Linked DNA regions of Homo sapiens. The protein of the gene in region 1 purifies or fractionates together with the protein of each later gene. This does not show direct contact. Each region holds a gene or a part of one and is shown in the gene's direction. Other genes may lie near its edges.

What was found.
Region 2: the proteins of SOS2 (region 1) and ZNF326 purify together in Homo sapiens (affinity purification with mass spectrometry, with the first as the bait; one large-scale study listed by BioGRID). This does not show direct contact.

Annotation. Positions count from the first base shown.
Region 1 is NC_000014.9:50,148,011-50,151,666, reverse strand, and holds part of SOS2 (son of sevenless homolog 2), read left to right. Parts: intron 1-1,436; coding exon 1,437-1,659; intron 1,660-3,656.
Region 2 is NC_000001.11:89,998,042-90,001,697, forward strand, and holds part of ZNF326 (DBIRD complex subunit ZNF326), read left to right. Parts: intron 1-68; coding exon 69-113; intron 114-3,656. UniProt on the Homo sapiens protein: Core component of the DBIRD complex, a multiprotein complex that acts at the interface between core mRNP particles and RNA polymerase II (RNAPII) and integrates transcript elongation with the regulation of alternative splicing: the DBIRD complex affects local transcript elongation rates and alternative splicing of a large set of exons embedded in (A + T)-rich DNA regions.

The DNA of each region.
Region 1 (3,656 bases):
CACACACACATTAGAATAAATTAAGTAAATGGTTATGTTAATGTCCAAAGTTCTTTTCTATACTAGTTATACTTCAGAATAACCAAATAGTTCATGAGGAAAAGTTTATTTTTGTGGAAGTATTTCAGCTAGTAAGTGAAGAAGGAATGGTAGAATATCACATTTCTCAGGTCCTAGTAAAATAATAAACCTAGGGAATTATCATGACTGGATGGGTACTATCACAAAAAGTTAACTAGACATTATATGCCTCCTGTTAGAAGTATTCTTGGCAAGTATTTGTGTCATAAAATTAATCCTGAATCAGACCAAGTCACTATATCTCTGCTTTACAGAAAATATAGAGGACAGAAAAACATGGCAAATGACAATTTCTTCCACAAAGTGCAAGCAAAAATATGCAATAAAGCAGTAACCTGTAGATTAAAGGAGACTTGAGACACATTGACTCAGTGCAATATGTGCAATCTTGTTCAGATCCCTTTTCAAACTAAATATAAGAAAATATGGCCAGGCACAGTGGCTCATGCCTGTAATCCCAACACTTTGGGAGGCCAAGGCAGGCAGATCACTTGAGCCCAGGAGTTCAAGACCAGCTTGGGCAACATGGATAAACCCTATTTCTACTAAAAATACAAAAATTAGGCCAGGCGCGGTGGCTCACGCCTGTAATCCCAGCACTTTGAGAGGCCAAGGCAGGCAGATCACGAGGTCAGGAGTTCGAGACCAGCCTGGCCAACATGGTGAAACCCTGTCTGTACTAAAAATACAACAAAATTAGCCAAGCATGGTAGTGTGCACCTATAATCCTAGCTACTCAGGAGGCTGAGGCAGGAGAATCGCTTGAACCCGGGAGGTGGAGGTTGCAGTGAGCCGAGATCACGCCATTATTCTCCAGCCTGGGTGACAAAGTGGGACTCCATTTCAAAAAAAATACAAAAATTAGCCAGGCGTGGTGATATGTGCAGTCCCAGCTACTTGGGAGGCTGAGGTGGGAGGATCACTTGAGCCCGCAACATGGAAGTTGCAATAAGTTGAGATTGCGCCACTGCACTCCAACCTGGGCCACAGAGCAAGACCCTGTCTCAAAAAAAAAAAAAAAGGAAAATAATCAGAGAGAGAAATGTGAACAGTGACAAAATACTTCAAGATAACAATGTATTAAGAAGTTGTCAGTTTTATGTGTGATAATGGTGTTGTGGTTATTACTTTAAAGAGTGTTTTAAAGGTGCTTAAATATGAATGAAATACGATGTCTCGGATTTGTTTCAGAATAACCTAGGAAGTGACGGGATGGCATGAGTAGGGTTAGAGAAAATAAAAATTGGCCATGAGTTGGTAACTGTTGAGGCTGGGTGAAAGTTAAGGATTAAATGAAGATTTGCAGTCATGTCTGTCAAGTAAAAGACATTTTTCTTTATGTGTTCTTTTTCCAGGGAAAGCTATGAAAAAATGGGTAGAGTCAATTGCTAAGATCATCAGGAGGAAGAAGCAAGCTCAGGCAAACGGAGTAAGCCATAATATTACCTTTGAAAGTCCACCTCCACCAATTGAATGGCATATCAGCAAACCAGGACAGTTTGAAACATTTGATCTCATGACACTTCATCCAATAGAAATTGCACGTCAGCTGACACTTTTGGAGTCTGATCTTTACAGGTAGACAATTAATGTTAATGTCTTGCTTTATTTTTAAGAATCTTGAACATTACCTATTTTCAAAACATTTTGCACATTATTCATGAGTGCTTAAAAATACCTCATCTACTCTCATGGGCTTAGAGGAAAGGTCATAGCACAGTTTTTAACTAGTCTGCCCTGCAAGTAAAAGTCTTATGTCTAGACTGGGGACTAGCAATCCATTACAAGAGGAATGGCAGGAAGATTTTCAAGTCCACCACCCCTCTTCAACTCCTAATACCTTCTCACCTTGGTTTAGTTTGAGGTCAGTCAGTCAAGTCAGTTAGTATGGATGCTAGGCCCTTAGCAGCTAAGTGAATAGAATATTGTGTGAGATGGGTTTTCTTTTCTCATTTACAGCTCAGGCTGTTGCGAAGGGTACAGGCCTTGCATGTAACAGCTCTCTGTCGAAAAATGTCACTATCATTATCATTCCATCAAAAACTTTTTCTACACCAACCTCTCTGTTTTCCCCTCCTCCCAATCCTTCCCAGCCACTAATACCTGCAGTTCTACTCTCTACTTCCATGAGTTCATTTTTTTTTTAGTTTTCATATATGAGTGGGAACATGTTATATTTTTCTTTCTGTGTCTGATTTATTTTGCTTAACATAAGGTCCTCCGGGCTCATCCATGTTGCCTTGAACGACAGGCTTTCATTCTTTTTTTATGGCCGAATAGTGTTCCACTGTGTATATATACCACATTTTCTTTATTCATTAATCTGTTGATTCCATATCATAGCTATTGTGAGTAGTATAGAAGCCTCAATTTAAAATATAAATGTGCTTGGCTGGGTATGATGGCTCATGCCTGTAATCCCAGCACTTAGGAGGCCAAGGTGGGCAGATCGCTTGAGACCAGGAGTTCAAGACCAGCCTGAGCAACATGGCAAACTCCGTCATACAAAAACTACAAAAAATAGCCAGGCATGGTGGCTCGTGCCTGTAGTGCCCCTGTAGTCCCAGTTGCCCAGGAGGCTGAGGTGGGAAGGTCACTTAAGGTCGAGGCTGCAGTGAGCCAAGATTGTGCCACTGCACTCCAGCTTGAGTGACAGAGTGAGACCCTATCTCTAAAATAAAAATATTTTCATGGAGTTATCCTGATTAGCAGCCAATTTTTAAATAAAGATTACACAGGGAAAAGCAAGAATATATAAAATTTAGTGCTAATAGGTAATATAGTAAGGTACCTTTACTACATTATGTTTACTTTATGTTCTTTAGAATTTGCCTAGTTTGCACTGGCCATGCCATTCAGAACCAGACTTTTAGCGCACCCACCAGAAGTTGTCAACATCTGACTCAAAATGTTATGTTATATTTTAAGTAATTTAGAATCCAGGTAGCTTTGTTTATGTTGTGGGATTTGTGATACGTAGAAATGAAGGGACTTGTTACTTGAGGTAAAAAAAGCAAATAGTACTGCATCATGTTTTTTCTCACAATGTAATTGTTTTACATGAATGGACATCAGAAAAAAAGCACTTCACTTCATGTGGACCTACTTTCAGGACATAGAAAAATACCTAATACTGACTTCATTTGTAAACTAAATTTTTTTTTTTTTTTTTTTTTGAGATGGTGTCTTGCTCTGTCACCCAGGCTGGAGTGCAGTTGTGCAATCTCGGCTCACTGCAACCTGTGCCTCCCAAGTTCAAGTGATTCTCATGCCTCAACCTCCCGAGTAGCTGGGATTACAGGTGTGTGCCACCATGCCCGGCTTTTTTATATTTTTAGTAGAGATGGGGTTTCACCATGTTGGCCACAGTGGTCACGAACTCCTTACCTCCAGTGATCCACCCACCTCAGCCTCCCAAAGTGCTGGGATTACAGGCATGAGCCACTGCACCCAGCTTTGTAAACTAAATTTCTGGTGAAATAATAGAGCCACTTTAAGAAAACATTTCAGAAACTGTTAGCAAGTACTTATTTATACACAAATCTACTGATTAAAAAATATTTTTTTAATGAATA
Region 2 (3,656 bases), on another chromosome or scaffold:
ATCGGCATATAATTTTGAATTATTGCTAATATCACACTAATTCCTTTTTGTTAAATGTGTCTTCATAGATTACACACACTCCGCCTGCAGGAATACTTATCAGGGCTTTAATGGTAAGTATCCTCTTTCAGCTTTTCTCTTCATGCGCATAAAAATATAGTATCAATGTAAAAGGCCAGTTCTACCTATTTCAGTCCTTGTTTTGGTTCTTGATATATCATTTATGTGTTAATATTGTCTTACTATATATAGTATTTGAATTGGGGAATGTGCTATCAGAAAATGTTAGGGGTTATTCACATTAGTTTGATTTTTTTTTTGGTCCATTTTGTTTGAATTATGATTATTTTAATGTGTTCCAAAGGGCCTAACTACATTCTGAGTGATGAATCACAAGACACTGGCTGAGTTATTTTGGTTGAATTAGAGGCTTTGGTATTGAGTAATGTAGACTAAGTGGATTATTGGCTTGGTTCTATATAGCTTGTATTGTAATGCATTTTGACCTTGTTTTTGAGGTCATTTTCTTCAGTGTGTCCAAATGTGTTAGTATATAAAGAGCTGTCTAGAGGAGCACATGAAGAAGCTTGATTGTTTATTGACATGAGCATGACATTAGACTTGTGACTATAGAACTAGATAGAATCATGAGAGGTATGTAGAATACAATTGGATGTCATTTTGATAGTTATTAGAGTTAGGGCCCTGCCACACAAGATAATAATACAAAAAAAGAACACAGAACAATTAATGCAGGTTAAAAAACATATGAAGGACTTGAGGCATTAAATATCATGATTGCCAGAGAAATGTAAAATCCAACTTTCGTACAGAATAGAATATATTCACAAAGTAAAACTGAAGCAAATGTATACTAAAGACTATGCCATTTATGGGAATAATTACTGAACAGTTAATTTTTATTTCATTATCTTTAAAGATTAAGATAAACTTTGGATTTCATGTGGGCTAAAAAGGCTTAACATATAGGGAGTTAGTACTGAAGAATGTATTTGTGAGCTGGAAATTGAAAATTACCAAAGGAAGTTTAATTTGCATCCACATGTAAGTTATATTGAAAACTGGAAAATTAACGAGAAAGCCATTTCATAAGTTTTGATATAAAGATTTTAAGGCCTTGAACTTGGGAGGTGATAGTAGTAGTAATCTTAAAAATAAAGAGCAAATTAGCAGAACTTGCAGGCTGACTAGTAATGGGTAGAAAATTGAGAGGGTTGAATAAAAATGAATCCAGGATTTTAAACTGGAATGTATGACTAGTGCTTTTACAAGGGAGAGGGGGAGGGGAAGAGGGAGGGGGAGAGGGAGAGAGTTTGTAATGATAAAAGGCCATCTAGGATTTACTGGATAGTTGGATTTAATGTCTAAACATAGGACTTGAAATGCAGACTCATGCAGGGCCAGATGTTTATTTATTAATTAGTATACAGTGTTGCAAAAAGATCTAATATGACTTTTATTTTTTCTCTTAATTTTAGTTATAACTGGTTCTCATCTGAGGGTGATTGTTGGAATCTCTTGGGGAGCTTTTTCAAAGTCTCTCTTTTCACACATAGCCTATACCTCTTGAATCTTAATTTCAGGGCAAGTGGTCTTTGGCTGTGTATGTTGTGCAAAACTACTCTGAATGATTTTGGAAGGCACCTCTGATTAAAGACCAATGCTTGACAGTACTTCTAGGTCTAGATTATCTATATTTTACAAATGAGGAACTTAATTTCAGGGATTCAATTTGACTTTGTTCAGCAAATATTTATTTAGTGCCTGCTGGGCATCAGATATCGTTCTAGGAGGTGGGAATATAGCAGTGAACAAAATGGACAAATATTCCTGCCTTTGTGAGGCTTTCCGTCTAGTGGGATGAAATAGTAAACAAGATAAGAAATAATATATATGTCATAATTTAGTCCACAGGGGAAAAAGGGAGTAATATTTATTGTATGTTAGATGATGATCATTGCGAGGGAGAGTAACATAGAGAAGGAGGATAAATGTGTGTGTGTGCTTGTATGTGTTGCAATTTTAGAGTCTCTGGGGAAAGACTCACCAAAAAGATGACATTTGAGCATAGATTTAAGATGAGTGAGTATGCAAGCCATGAAGCCATTTAGAAGAAGACTTACGGGCTTTAAGAAATAAACAGTGTGTAGGTACCAAAAAGCCAAAAATATATTTTATTGTTAGCACTGTATTTTCTAGGAAGTGAAATGAAGTAGAAGGCATTGGAAAACATGGCAAGATACAGATTTTCCCCACACTATTTCTTGGAAGGAAAATGTATTTCCAGTGTCTCCATGTTTTCCTTCTTGCTTCATAATACCTTTTACATAAATAGCATATAGAAAAGGGGAGAGAAAAGGGTGTGGTAGCTCATGCCTATAATCCTAGTGCTTTGGGAGCCTGAGGTAGGAGCACTGCTTGAGGCCAGGTGATTGAAACTAGCTTGGGCAACATAGTGAGACCCTGTCTCTACAAAAAAATTTTTTAAAAACATTAGCCAGGCGTGGTGGTGCCCCCCTATAGTTCCAGTTACTCCAGAGGCTGAGATGGGAGGATCGATTGAGCCCAGGAGGTGGAGGCTGCAGTGAGCTATGATTGTGCCACTGCAGTCCAGCATGGGTGACAGAGCAAGACCTTAACGCTGGCTTGACTAGAACAGATGATTTTTTGCTGAGCAATCTTAAGACAAGGTTAGAGTGGTGAGGTGGAGCCAGAAAGCATTGAAAATCAAAGATAATTTGCTTATATATCAGAAGCAATACAAGTGAAGACCTGAAAAAGTTGAGGGAGTAAACAGTGCAGGTTCAGGGGAATGAGCATTCCAGGCAGAGGGAACAGCAGCTGCTAAAATGGGTATACACCTTGTGTTCTAGAGACATCAAGGGGCCTGGTGTTGTAGTAGTGGAGTGAACAGGGGTGTATGTAATTGATAATGAAGTTAAGAGGTGATGGGGCATATCATGTAGGGCAGGGTTTCTCAAATTTCTTACATTTTGGACTGGGTAATTTTTTGTTGTAGGGGGATGTCCTGTGCATTGTGGAACATTTAGCAGCCTCCTTGGCCTCTATAATATGCCAGATGTCAGTAGCATCTGCCCCCTAGTTGTGACAACCAAAAATGTTTCAGACATTGCCAATGTCCCCAGGGGGTGCAAAATCTCCCCTAGTTAAGAACCACTGGTATAGGTTCTTAGATGTTATTTTAAGCTTTGGCTTTTACTTGGAATAAGAGGAACCCATTGGAGGTTACTGAGCATTGAACATGATTGAACTTAACATTTTGTCAGAATTATTGTGGCTGTTGTCTTCAGAAAAAACAGCAAAGGAGCAAAAGTGGAGCAGGAAAACCAGTTAGGAGACTTTTGCAATAACCTAGGTGGTAGATGTTGGTATCTTGTAGTAGGGTGCTGGTAGTGTAGAGTTGCTAAAAAGTAGTCCCACTCAAGACTTAATGTCACATAGTTAGTTATTTTGGTCATAGGTCAGTTTTTAATTTTTTTTTTTTTTTGAGGTGGAGTTTCTCTCTTGTCGCCCAGGCTAGAGTGCAATGGTGTGATCTCAGCTCACTGCAACTTCCGCCTCCTGGGTTCAAGCAATTCTTTTGCCTCAGCCTCCTGAGTAGCTGGGATTACAGG